Linked DNA regions of Homo sapiens. The protein of the gene in region 3 purifies or fractionates together with the protein of the main gene of each other region. This does not show direct contact. Each region holds a gene or a part of one and is shown on either strand. Other genes may lie near its edges.

Region 1 (3,500 bases), on a different chromosome or scaffold from region 3:
TATTGGAAAAGCTGGTACAGTTGAGGAGGAGAAGTCAGGGAATACAGGAATAGAGATGTGACTAATTGAATGGCCATTGGACTGAAAGTCAAGCAATCCTATATTTTAGACCTGATTGTGCCAGGAACTTCAAGGGATTTGAGAGGAAGTCATTTAACCTCTCTGAGTCACAGTTTTAATATTACAAAACAAGAGAGCTGAATGAGATCTGGTTTCACATTTAACATCGTGTCATTCTGTGATATGAGAAAGGCTAGGCAGAGACAATGGGGAAAAAATTGCATTCTCACAATCTTCCCAGCTCTCTCCATCTACCTTGTTTATGTATGAACTCCTAGCAAGATTTTGGTATTCAACAACATATGCAAGAAGAGCATCAGGCGTTTTCATCCCAACTGGTTTTCTAATTCTTTCCTTGTATATTGAAAGTAATTTTACAAATTAAAATGTTGTGCTAAGTCACAAAAGTTCAGAGAGAAAATGATAACTTTCACATATGAAAAGACACCAGGATTGAAAATGTGTATACCTTTATTTATTTATTCATTCACCCATCCATTTGTTTAATCAACCATATTTATTGAGTACATACTATGTTTCAGGCATCTTCTAGTTCCTGGTGTATATATGTATATATATATGTATATATACATATATACATATATATATACACATATATACATATATATATATACACGCATATATGTTGGGCATCCCTAATCTGAAAATTTGAGTGGAAGTGCTCCAAAACTCCAAATTTTTGAGCACAAACATGAAACAAGTAGAAAATTTCCTACTTGACCTCATGTGATGGGTCACAGTCAAAATGCAGGTACACAATGCACAGTTTACTCAGAATTAACAAGAGAAAAAAGAATTTCCCAGCCCCTTTCGGCTGTGATATATCTTTTTCTTGAACACCCAGTTTTTCCCATGAAAGCAAGTCCACAAAGGGTAAAAAATGGCACCTGTGCAGGATGAATGAGCCTATAGCAGATTTGCCACTCTGCCTCCATGGGGCCAAGATTTGTGTGTATTTCTCTGTGTGTGTCTTTTTTTGTTTTTTGGGGTTTTTTTTTATTTTGTTTTTGTTTTGCTTTTTCTCTACTCTGTGATGTAAATATACTGTTGAAAATATCAAAAAGGTCTGCAGATACTTATGGGTAACAGTGATAAGAAAAAAAAAGGAAGCATTTATGTATACTTATAACACAGAAAGTCAAGCTTTTGGATAAATTGGACAGTGGTATAGGTATAAAATGTCTGATAGAAGAGTATGGTGTTGAGGCCAGGCGCAGTGGCTCATGCCTGTAATTCCAGCACTTTGGGAAGCTGAGGCAGGTGGATCACCTGAGGTTGGGAGTTTGAGACCAGCCTGGCCAACAAGGTGAAACCCTGTCTCTACTAAAAACAGAAAAATTAGCTGGGTGTGGAGGCATGTGCCTGTAATCCCAGCTACTTGGGAGGCTGAGGCAGGAAAATTGCTTGAACCTGGGAGGCAGAGGTTGTAGTGAGCTGAGATCACATCACTGCACTCCAGCCTGGGCAACAGAGTGAGTCTCCATCTCAAAAAAGTAACAATAAAAAAAGAGTATGGTGTTGAAATGACCACCATATATGACTCAAAGAAATAGAAGGATAAACTGTTTAAGTCCTATGCTGAAGTTAATGAAAAATGTAAAAAAACATTCCACAAAGCTACAAATGAAGATCCCAATTGTGTATTGAGAAAGTGGATCCATCAGTATCACAAAGAACACATGCCACTTAATGGTATGCTGATCATGAAACAGGAAAAGATCTATCACGATGAACTGAAAATTTAAAAGAACTGCGAATATGCGTAGTTCTTTGGCATAAATTTAAGAAAAAACATGGCATTAAATTTTCAAATATTTGTAGTGACGAAACATCTGCTGATCAGAAAGCAGCAGAGAAATTTATTGATGAGTTTGCCAAGATCATCACTGATAAAAATTCTCACACTAGATCAAGTCTATAGTGCTGATGAAACATCACTGTTTTGGCATTATTGCTTCAGAAAGACACTGACTTCAGCCGATGAGACAGGCCTTGTGGGCAATCAGGATACCAAGGACAGGATAATTGCGCTGGGATGTGCTAATGCAGCAGGCACACACAAATGTAAACCTGCTGTAATAGGCAAAAGCTTGAATTCTCACTATTTTCAAAGAGTAAATTTCTTACTAGTCCATTATCATGCTAACAAAAGGCATGGGTCACCAGGGACATCTTTTGTGATTGTTTTCACAACATTTTGTAGCAATGGCTCATGCTCACTGCAGGGAAGCTGGACTGGATGAAGGCTGCAAGATTTTGTTATTCCTTGACAACTTTTATGCTTATTCTTCAGCTAAAATTCTCATCAAAAGTAATACTTATTCCATGTGCTTTTCCCCAAATGTGACTTTATTAATTTAGCCATGTGAGAATGGTGTCCTTAGATCAATCAGTGTAAATATAAAACATTTTCGTAAACAGTATGTTATCAGCAGTGAACATAGGTGTGGGTGTTTCGCATAAAGGATGTTGTATATGCTGTTGCCAATGCTTGTAATGCAGTAACTAAAGACAGTTGTGCATACCTGGCATAACCTCTGTCCTGCAACTATGTTCAGTAAGTATTATAAATAAAGTGACTTTGAATGATTCTGTATGTCAAATGAGAAAAAAAAAAGATGTCTGACCATACATACGCAAAAAAAAGTACCTTCAGAGTCCACCAGTAAGTTGGAAGAAGTTGATATTGAAGAAATTTTTAACACTGATAATGAGGCTCCAGTTGTTCATTTATTAACCAATGGTGAAATAGCTGAAATGGTTCTGAATCAAGATGATTGTGATAATAGCAATAATGACGATGGTGGTTAACACTGTAAAGACTTTGTCAGGGGCCAGATCAGGCAGGTCTTGTAGGCCAAGGTGAAAAATTTAGATTTTATGCAAAACACAATGGAAAGCGGGTAAAGGATCTTAAGAGAGGAATAATATGACCATTAGGGTTTAAAAAGGCCACTCTGGTAGCATGGGAGAATAAATTTGAGAGATGCCAGAGGGAAAGCTGGATCTTGGAAGGAAGCTGTTACAGTAGTTTATGGAGTGATAATGATGGTTGCATTAGACTAATGGGTGAATTTTAGATAAATTTTTAACTAAAAGATTTCCTGGTTTGTAGGTTGGCAGTGAAGGAAAGTAAGAAATTAAAGTTGATACTCAGTATTCTGCCTTAGGCCAGCCAGTGGATGGTGGTGCTGATGAGATGGGAACACTCAGAGAGGGGCAGAAGGAAAGACACATTTCAGGGTTCTATTTGGACATGGTACTTTAGCGATATCCATGAGACATCTAGGTGGGGATGGAAGATGAATACAGGAAATGTACCTTTAAGGAGAGGCTCGGGCAAGAGATAATAATTTAGGAGTTGTCTGCATATACATGGTATTTAACGCCAAGAGAAGGGATGAGTTTAGACATGGAAA
Region 2 (3,500 bases), on a different chromosome or scaffold from region 3:
TCTCACTCTTGTCACCCAGGCTAGAGTGCAGTGGCATGATCTCGTCTCACTGTAACCTCCGCCTCCTGGGTTCAAGCGATTCTCCTGCCTCAGCCTCCCAAGTAGCTGAGATTACAGGCATGTGCCACCACACCTGGCTAATTTTTGTATTTTTTAGTAGAGACAGGGTTTCACCATGTTGGCCAGGCTGGTCTTGAACTCCTGACCTCAGGTGATCCACCTGCCTCAGCCTCCCAAAGTGCTGGCATTACAGGCATGAGCCACCGTGCCCGGTCCCTTCCATGCAGTCTTCTGTAAGGAGCAGGCAGAACCACATTAGTTCCTGTCTTGTTCCCCTCTCCCACAAACAGATGGGATCCATCCAAGAAGTTGAAGTCAGGCTGGGGCTTCATTCATTCACTCAACAAATCTTTATGGCGTGGTCAAGGCTAGGCTGGTGAGCAAAACAGACTGGTCTCTGCCCTCAGGGAGTTTCATTCTAGTAGAACAGGGGTCCCCAACCCCCAGGCCACAGACCAATACGGGTCCATGGCCTGTTAGGAACTGGGCCAATACAGTAGGAGGTGAGCAGTGAGTGAGCATTACCACCTGAGCTCCACCTCCTGTCAGATCAGCTGCAGCATTAGATTCTCATAGGAGTGCAAATCCTATTGTAAGCTGCACATACAAGGGATCTAGGTTGTGTGCTCCTTATGAAAATCTAACTATGTCTGATAATCTGAGGTGGAACAGTTTCATCTTGAAACCATCCCCCAACCTCCATCTGTGGAAAAATTGTCTTCCACAAACCGGTCCCTGGTGCCAAAAAGTTGGGGACTGCTGTAGTAGAACAGACAGACATTAGTCAGACAAACAAACGCACCATTCCAACAGCAATAGCCGGAAAGGAGAGGCGCGTGGACTATGAGACGGTGCTGGAGGGTGGGAGGTAATCTGGCCAGAAGGTTAGAGAAGGCTCTGTGGAAAAAAATGAGTGAGCTGAAAGCTGAAGAATGATTAGGCATTAACTATGTGAAGAAGGAAAGTGAATTCCAGGCAGAGAAATAAAACAACAAAAAGGCCCTGTGGTGAGAGGGAATGAGGCCTAAAATAAAAAAAGATCAGCATGGCTGAGGGCCAGAGAAAAAGGGGATGAGAGGAAGGAAGGAATGGAGAACTACTCTGAAGTTCAACTGCGTTAAGTGGTAGTACCATTCCTGCAAACAGGAAATACTGGGAGAGGACCAAGCTGGGACTGAGATGATCATGAGGTCAATTTTGGACATGTGGAGTTGAGGGAAGCTTTGGGAGATCCAAGCAGAACTATGACATGGGCAGTTGGAAATACAGGATATATAAATTTGCGGTTTGTAGGTAACCTCTGGGCTAGAGATGTAAACATGGGAGTCACGTGTGAGCAAGCAGTGGCTGAAGCAAGGGAGCAGGCCTGGGTAGAACTGTCTATGAGAGTGAGAGAAAGGGGCCTGCAACCAACATTTCATGCCCAAGAGCTGGAGAGTGACCGCAATGGAGCCTGGAAGGAGTGGCCTGAGAAATGCTGCATCACAGAAGCTAAGGGAGCAGCGTGTATCCGGGCGGAAGAAGTAGTCAGCAGTGTCAAACATTGCCGTAGGGCTCCATAAGATGCCAACTGACTGATGGGACCCTGCTTACCCAACTGAGCAGCATTACTGGACAGGCCTAGTATCTGAAAGAGGGGGCCTATTAGATCTTCTTTGACCCGGATATTAGAGGCTCACCTGCTAGCAGTTTCCAGGGAAAGAGGAACAGAAGAGCAGAGATCCAAAGCATTTGCCATTGTATGCAATGACCTGACCTCAGGAAGTGGCTCAAATTGGAGTTAAGAGCAGATACCAGCCTAGACATATCCTCTGTTCCAAGGCTGGTTAAATATGTATGGCTTTAAAACTAGGGCAATACTTGAGACCTGACACCAGGGTGCAGGGAAGGGGGCTCCTCCTCTCCCACAGTTGGCAAGGCGCCTAGACTGGGGTGTCCAGCTGCAGCAACAGCACAGCAAAGCACCAAACGCACTCACCTGGTAAGATACCCGGACCTTGGACTCTGACCGTCTCCTTGTCCTGCTCGTCTGCCAGCTCTGAGTTCTCAACCACCTGGACCAACTCCTCACTCAGCTAAAGGGAGAAGCAAAGAGAGCAAAGACAAGTCAGCTATGTCAGCCTTGCTTTTCTACACTAGAATAAGAAAGCAGAAGCTGCTTGTCACTTAATTGTCACCAAAAACCACATGACATAGAGTGTGTTACAGCAATTTTACAGATGAGGACACCGAAGCTCAGAAAGCTCAATAAACTTTCTGCTCTCTGTGTTCCTAGGACTACTGTAGCAAGTACCACAAACCGAACAGCTTAAAACAACGGAAATGTCTTCTCTCACAGTTCTGGAGGCTAGAAGTCTGAAATTGAGGTGTTGGCAGGGTTGGCTCCTTCTTCTACGAGTGGTGAGGAAATCTGTTCCATGCCTCTCTCCTGGCTTCTGGTGACAGCCAGCAATCCTTGGAGTTCGTTGGCTCGTAGAGGCATCCAATCTCCACTCTCCGCTGCCATCTTTACAAGGTGTGCTCTCTCTGTGTCTTCACATGGTCATCGTCTTGAAGGACACCAGCCATGTTGGATTAGGGGCCCACCCTACTCCTGTATGACCTCATCTTCACTAATTACACCTGCAATGACCCCATTTCCAAACAAGGTCACAATCTGAGGTACCTGGGGTTAGGACTTCAACATATCTTTTTTAAGGAAACACAATTCAACCCACAATATTTTCCATGGCCATAAAGCCAGGGAAAGATATGGCAGGAGTAAAATCCAAGTTGGTCTAGTTCCAAAGCCCATAGTCTTAACCACTTCCCAAAGGAAGAGGAAATACGGCTTAGAGTCTGCTGAGAGAAAAGAGGGAACAGTGAAGGTGGTGTCAGAGCTCTCTCTGGCACTCTGGCTGAAGTCCACTGACTTGGGCTGCAAATGGCAGAACACAGCAGGAAGGGCAGGCAGTCCACCACAGGGATAGGTGCTGATTATAATCAGCAGCCTGGTAGCCAGCAACCTCAACCTCACTTCACCAGTGGTCTCACCTGTCAAATGGGGAAAATTATACCACTGAGAAGGGAAGAAGGACGGAAAGGATACCATGATAATCAACAAGTCTCTGTAGGATTAAGGAGGAGGGCAAGAGAGCTCAAGACCAGAGCTTAGAAGAGAAGCCATCCCTGAATTGGGAGGGAGAGGGGACAGCTTTCCCAAGCACTTTGTCAGGTTCACAGCATCAGTGTTTAAGGTTTTAAGGTTTCTAGACATTTTCATTAAAAACTCACCTCCAAGAGACAAGTGAAAAACATCTCTTACGAATCTATTCTTCTATCTCCCTCTCCACGACTCCACTCCTGCCCCTTAGAATCAGGCAAAATCTCCAGTTTAAAGCCCTCGAAGCACAAAAGAAAAGGCCAGGTGCGGGGCCTGACACGGTGGCTCATGCCTGTAA
Region 3 (3,500 bases):
CTATGAATAGAACATATGGCTGTATTTCATAATTTATTTACTATTTAAATATGAGGCAGATAGTAATAATTATGATTATGCAGAAATATGTTTGGAAATTAAGAGGAAGTGGTATATAAATTCTAGTGTCATATATAGTATTTAATTTAAAAATGAATGTTATTTAAGTTGATCTTAAGTCTGAGATGATATTAATATACTTTGTTTCATGCTTATTTTATAAATGATCTGTCTAGTTTGGAAGCTACTGGGTTCCAACCTGTTACTCTTTTTGCTATTCTTTAATCTCCTATCAATCATTTAACTACCCTTCACTGTCCCTTCGCCCACCATTAGGATATAAATGGTAGATAATTTCAGGGTATTGATGGGATATTTCATCTCTCTAAATAATTATCATTAAGTAAGATAAGTATTAATATTTAAATTTGCAGGTATGTCTTGAAAAAATGGAAGATATTCAGCTAGCCATGGTTATTGCCCGTTTATATGAATCTGAATTTGAGACTTCATCCACTTATATATCCATCCTAAATCAGAAGATTTTGGGTTGCCAAAAGGATGGCTCAGGATTCAGTTGCAAAAGATTACATCCTGATCCTTTCCTGCGTAGTCTTGCCTATTGGGTAATGAAAGATTACACCCGAGCCTTGGACACATTACTGGAACAAACACCAAAGGAGGATGATGAACATCAAGGTAGGACGTTTTGTGGATTTCTTTTTTTTCTTTTTTAAAGGAAGAGATACTTTCTGAACTAATGTTCACTTAGATTAAGAAAAATCATTACCAGATTTGCTTTTCAACTTTGAGAATTTATTATTAAAATTTCTTGTGTGTCTAAAGGATTAGATAGGATTACCATCCTATTCTAATTACGTATATATTTAACAAGCATACAAAATGTTTGCCACATTCTGTAGCTCTTTTTACATAATCATATAGCCATTTTTTTTAAATGGAAATTTTGGCTGTTACACGTATTGGTTTGTCACATGGGCCTGGAAAAACTTTATGCCTCTGTGGTAAATTTTCTTTTTTCCTTGTTATCCTAAATAATTTAGATATTACAAGCACTTAAAGGATATTTATCAGCATTGTTTTCAATAATTTGAAAGGAATGGAACATTTTAAGTTTTTGTCAATAGAATAGTTAAATACGTTTTAATATATCCACATATAGAAACAGTGTGTCATTAAAAATTGAGGTAGATACATATGTTAATATGTGCTGTATTTTTAAGTGAAAAAAAGTAAGATGCACAGCAGTGTGGTTCTTGTTGCATTTGGCATATGTATGTTGTACAAACATGCACCTGAATGTGCACACATGTTATGTCTGCCTCCTCCATTTCCTTTGGTTGTTTCCTGAAACAAATCATAAGAAATGAAATACTGGTCATTGGTCACTGGCTACCTTTTGGGAATAAAAATGAGGAGATCCTTGTCTTTGACTTTTGACAACTTGACCATGTGCCTTGGAGAGGATCTTTTTAGGTTGAATCTATTTGGGAGTATTTGAACACCCTGGACCTAGATGCCTATCTCTTTCCCAAGACTTGGGAATTTTGGGCTGTTACTTTATTAAATGTGTTTTCCTCACCTTTTCCCTTTTCTTCTTCTTCTGGAATGCCCATAATATGAATATTTGTTTACTTAATAGTGTCCCATAAATCCTGTAGGCTTTCTTCATTCTTTTTTTTCTGTTCCTCCTTCTTCCTTTTTTTTTTTTTTTTTGGTTTGCCTGAGTTATTTCAAAAGACCTGTTTTCAAGTTCAGAAATTCTTTCTTCTGCTCGATCTAGTCTGTTGTTGAAGCTCTTGATTATATTTTTTATTTCATTCATTGAATTTTTTAGCTCTAGTATTTCTGTTTGGTTCTTTTGTATGATATCTATCTCCTTGGTGAATTTCAAATTCACATCATGTATTCTTTGCCTGATTTCATTTAGTTGTATATCTGTATTCTTTTGTATCTGAATGAGTTTCCTTAAGACTATGATTTCCTTAAGAATTATTTTTCTGGCATTTCATGTTTCCTTGTGACTAAGGTCTGTTACTGGAGAATTAGTATTTTCCTTTCCATTCTTTTCCTTTGGTGTCATATTTCCTTGCTTTCTCATGGTTGGTGTGTTTCTACATTGATTTCTATGTATCTGGCAGAAAAAGTTGCCTCTTCTAATTTTATGGAGTAGGTTTCATAGGGAAAGACTTGTTACTATGAATAGGTCCTGAGGTGTTGGTTTGGTGGAGTGCATTGGTTAGATGGATACAGTAGTGTAGTCTCCATGTAGCTTCTTCACCTGTAATCCACATTAGTGGCATTTGCAATCCTCTCAGTTGCCTAGGCTGAAAGAGTTTGCGGTGATGGCCATGTAGCTTTGCCAGGTGGGCTCGCTGGGCAGTTTTTCAGGTTGGGGTGCATATGTGCACACAATGGGTCAGCCAGCTTAGGGTCTGGTTGGCTGGGATTGGGGCCACAGGTCTGTTACTCTGGCCAGGAGTGTGGGTACATGGTCACTTGGCCAGCCTGGAGGTGTGCCTGCCAGAAGCAGCCCACAGGGCTCATATGTGGCCTCACGGCTACTCAGCTGGCCTGGGGTTTTGTCTGTTAGGGGTGGGGATAAGGCTATTTCTCAGGCCCATGACACGATTGCATGGCTGCTCAGCTGGCCTGGGGGTGTTTCTGCAGGTGTTGCCCATGGGTTATTTGTATACCTGTGATGCAGGTGCAGGGCTGCTCAGCTGGTCTGGTACTATGTTAGCTGGGGTGGCAGTGAGGCTGCTCCTCAGGCCTGAGGTGTGGGCATAAGGCTGCTCAGCTGGCATGGGGGCGTTTCTGTTAGGGGCTCATGGGGCTATTTCTCAGGTCTGAGACTGGTGCAAGGCTGTTCAGCTGGCTAAGGGGTGTGCACACTGGGAGCAGCCTGCAGGGCTGTTTGACCAGGCTGGGATGTGTCCACCAGGGATAGCCCACAGGGCCGTGGAAGTGGGCTCTTGGCTGCTTGGCTGGCCTGGTGGTGTGCTGCCAGGGGCGGCTCGAAGGACTATTTCTCAGGCGTTGATTGCAGGCGCAGGGCCTTTGGCAGGCCAGAACTCTGAGTGCAGGGAGCAGGGGCGCTGCACGCTGTTTCTGAGGTCCTGAGTGTGGGCATGTAGCTGCTTTGCTGGCCTGGGGGCATATCAGCTGCTCGTAGGCTTGGAGACCTCTCCCATTTGGGGGAGGGTATGTATGTAGTGGTTTGGCTGGCTCAAGGGCAGGTTCACCCTGGGCAAGACTGCCAGATTGTTTCTCTGACCAAAAGTGTGATGGTAGGGGTTGATTTCCCTGCCATGCAGGACCAAAGTCATAGCCAGTCATGGTCCTAGGCTCTGCATAGCTGGGATTGTAGCATTCAGCTACCCATGTAGGCTTGGAATGAAGACGGGTCCCCAGTGTTGGAGAGGTACAGTGACTCCTGGCCCCCAGAGCAGTGCGCATGCCAGAGGTGACTGGTCTCA
Region 4 (3,500 bases), on a different chromosome or scaffold from region 3:
AATTTACAATGTTTCTTTAGTTAAATGTTTATTTATTAAAGACTCTGTTTCACCATACAAGTCCTCATTTGCTGTTGTATGTAGACACCTGTTAAATCCTGCTTGGAAGTTTTTACTGTGTAGTTTGCTATAAATCAGTCAGGCAGGCGAAGTAGAAGATTGGCAAAGCTTTTAACATAGACTGAGCCATTGGAAACAAGGCCTGAGCCACCAAAGCTAGAACAGGATGCACTCCCCACTGCTGCCTTGTGTGGTATGCCTTTAAAGTTTGGGTTCCAAATTAGCTGTTTTGGTTTCTGTCACAGGACAACCAATTGAAAACAGCTCAACCTTTCAGGATAGAGGATGGAGCTAACCTGTAGAGAACTAAATGATGGTTGTTATGCAAAGGTAGGATTTTTAACATCACATATGAATAGTCTTCGGAATATTTCCTGTTGTTTTCATCCAGATTTGTCATTACTGCTAGTTTTTGAGGTTAGGAAAAGAGAGCTGTCACCTTCATGGGGCTTAAAAAAATACAATGTGGAGATTTTCAGTCAGTTTTCAGTCAGAGGAAGGAATACCGGCTGTCCGTCTAGTTTGAATTCTTCATGATGGTATCCTTAGCCATGATCCATTGCTCTTGTTTTGATTATTTGTATTTTAAAGAGCAGATTGATGCAATGGGCTAGTGAGGGCATTCTACCCTATTTTGAGAGTTTGAGAGCTTCACTTTTTTAAACTAAGAATGATAGTGAGTTTAAAAAATATTAGTTGTATTTCAAAATTAACCTTAGGTGTGCTTGAAATTTTCTTATGTACTTCAGTAACAACATACTGGGATTGCAAATATTGTACTTTTGTATACTGTAAAGGGGGAGTTGAAAATACATTAAATAGTAAAAAAAAAAAAAAAAAGACTTGGAATCTAGAAATCCTAGTTTGTATAATGGATTGTAAGAACTTCAGAAGGATGAAGGAGTTGGGCCCTATGCTCTGTAAATATGTTGATTTTTTGCTATTTATTGATAGCTTATTATGTGCGGAATTTTACATAGTCTGGATCTTCATAGACTTCCTCCTTGAATCTCCTGTGTGCACTTGAACGTTTGTATTGCCTGATTTTACAGATGATGACATTGAAGTGCAGTGAGGTCTAGTAGTCTTTCCAAGGCCCTAAGTTTCACGTATGTCCCAGCAGATAAAGTTGCAAATTGATGTAACTGTCAGCCTGGGGGACATGGGAACCCACCAGGGCCCTTGAAGAAGGAGACCTTGGCCTTTGTACCTCCTATCAATGCTACCCCTCTCCAGCTTTCAGCCTAGAGTTTAAGAGCAAACAGGACATCTTATTCTGAATAAATGGTACTACTAATACAAAGTTATTTGAAAATATGTGTTCTTTCCAGAACAGGCATTTCTTCATTAGCAATTGATTTAGAGACTCTGATGGTAAGAATAAATGCATTTGTTTTTACCTAGTTTGTGAGAAAATATGCAGAGATGACTTGGGGGACCACATTTTCCAGATAGCCCTTTCTAGCAGAGTTTGTGAGGTCATGGAGAAAACTACTGTCACCTACGTGTCTCTGGCTTTATTAGTCAGTTAAAGCAAATATAGTTGCATTTACAGAAATACCCCCAAAATGAGTGACCCACTCAGAATGCTCTGCCACCTAGTGTTTACTGGGTGCCTGCTCTGTAGGATGCAACTGCGTGTCATTTCATTTAATCCTTATGAAGCACTATGGGGAGGTAATATGTTCCCGTAATACAACAGAAGACACTGAGGTTCAGGGTGGTAGACTCACTTGTCCAAGGTTATCAAGCTGCCAAGTGGCAGCACCAGAATGACCCCAGTTGATTTTTCTGAAGAGCCAGAGATCTTAACTCCAGTGGAATGAACCAGGGAGGGCCATGGTAGAGAAAAGTCGTGCTGGACCTTGAAGAATTGGAAGGAATATTTTAATTAGAGAGGCCGGGGTCTGGGGAAGAGAGAAGACAGAGAGGGAAGGGTGTCCTGGGGGTACTGATGGCTTAAAGAAGGGCACAGTGGAGGTGTAAAGTTCATGTAAGAGGCAGAGCCTGGCCTTCTCTGACTAGGGCACTGGATTTGGATAAGATGTGGTTCTCACCCTGGGCTCTGAGGCCCCCTACACCCACAGAGGTGGCCTGAGAGGCAGCCTCCCAGGAAAGGAAGACACTGTGAGAGTGAGACTCTCTCCCTGCATGCACCAGCAAAGGGGCTCAGCTTATGATACTTTAGAGTTTCAGGAAAAGCTTTAGTACAGTAGATTCTGTGCTTGAAAAAGGAGTTGCAGCTCACTAGGGCAGCAGAATGTCAGAAATAAACCCGAAAAGTTATTGATGTGCCTAATGGAATTTTGACTTCTGTCTGTAATGCAGACCAGGGGACATCTCTGACTAGTTTTTAGAGAGACACACAAAATAAAACCAGATTTTTCTTTCACCACCTAAAAGATTACACTAGCTGCAGTCTTTTAGGAGAGTAAGAGTTTGCAGGCAAGGTAAGCAAATAGGCATCTGTAGATTGGAACCTTTACACACTGCTAGCAGGAGGATTAATTGGTATCTCTATTATTTTAGTCAGGCTTCTCCAGAGAAAGAGAACCAATGTGTATATACATGGAGATTTATTATAAGAAATTGGCTCACATGATGTATTAGTCTATTCTCACACTGCTGTGAAGAAATACTTAAGACTGGGTAATTTATAAGGGAAAGAGGTTTAATTGACTCACAGTTCAGTATGGCTGGGGAGGCCTCAGGAAACGTACAATCATGGTGAAAAGGGGAGCAAACATGTCCTTCTTCACATGGCAGCAGGAAGGAGAAGTGCAGAGTGAGGTGGGGGAAAAGCCCCTTATAAAACCATCAGATTTTGTGAGAATTCACTCACTGTCACCAGAACAGCATGAAGGTGACTGGCCCCATGATTCAGCTACCTCCCACCGGGTCCTTCCCACAATACATGGGGATTATGGGAACTACAAGATGAGATTTGGGTGGGGAAACAGCCAAATTATATCATTTTGCCCCTGGCCCCTCTGAAATCTCATGCCCTCACATTTCAAAATACAACCATACCCTCCCAACAGTCCCCCAAAGTCTTAACTCTTTCCAGCATTAACTGAAAGTCCACAGCCCAAAGTCTCATCTGAGACAAGGCAAGTACCTTCCGCCTATGAGCCTGTAAAATCAAAAGCAAGTTAGTTACTTCCTAGATAAAAGAGGGGTACAGGCATTGGATAAATACACCAATTCTAAATGAGAGAAATTGGCCAAAACAAAGGGGCTACTAGCTCCATGCAAGTCTGAAATCCTGTAGGGCAGTCATTAAAACTTCAAGTTCCAAAAATGATCTCCTTTGACTCCATGTCCCACATCCTGGGCATGCTGATGCAAGAGGTGGGCACCCATGGTCTTGGGCAGCTCCACCCCTCTGGCTATGCAGGGTACAGCCTCCCCTCTTGGCTGCTTTCACAGGCTGGTGTTGA

The links.
Region 1: the proteins of DMXL2 (region 3) and ANKRD22 purify together in Homo sapiens (co-immunoprecipitation; one large-scale study listed by IntAct). This does not show direct contact.
Region 2: the proteins of DMXL2 (region 3) and PACC1 purify together in Homo sapiens (co-immunoprecipitation; one large-scale study listed by IntAct). This does not show direct contact.
Region 4: the proteins of DMXL2 (region 3) and CD226 purify together in Homo sapiens (co-immunoprecipitation; one large-scale study listed by IntAct). This does not show direct contact.

The regions. Positions count from the first base shown.
Region 1 is NC_000010.11:88,845,345-88,848,844, reverse strand, and holds part of ANKRD22 (ankyrin repeat domain-containing protein 22), read left to right. Parts: intron 1-3,500.
Region 2 is NC_000001.11:212,408,387-212,411,886, forward strand, and holds part of PACC1 (proton-activated chloride channel), read right to left. Parts: intron 2,136-3,500; coding exon 2,039-2,135; intron 1-2,038. UniProt on the Homo sapiens protein: Chloride channel gated by pH that facilitates the entry of chloride ions into cells upon exposure to extracellular acidic pH. Involved in acidosis-induced cell death by mediating chloride influx and subsequent cell swelling.
Region 3 is NC_000015.10:51,483,272-51,486,771, reverse strand, and holds part of DMXL2 (dmX-like protein 2), read left to right. Parts: intron 1-434; coding exon 435-699; intron 700-3,500. UniProt on the Homo sapiens protein: May serve as a scaffold protein for MADD and RAB3GA on synaptic vesicles. Plays a role in the brain as a key controller of neuronal and endocrine homeostatic processes.
Region 4 is NC_000018.10:69,941,374-69,944,873, reverse strand, and holds part of CD226 (CD226 antigen isoform a precursor), read left to right. Parts: intron 1-3,500.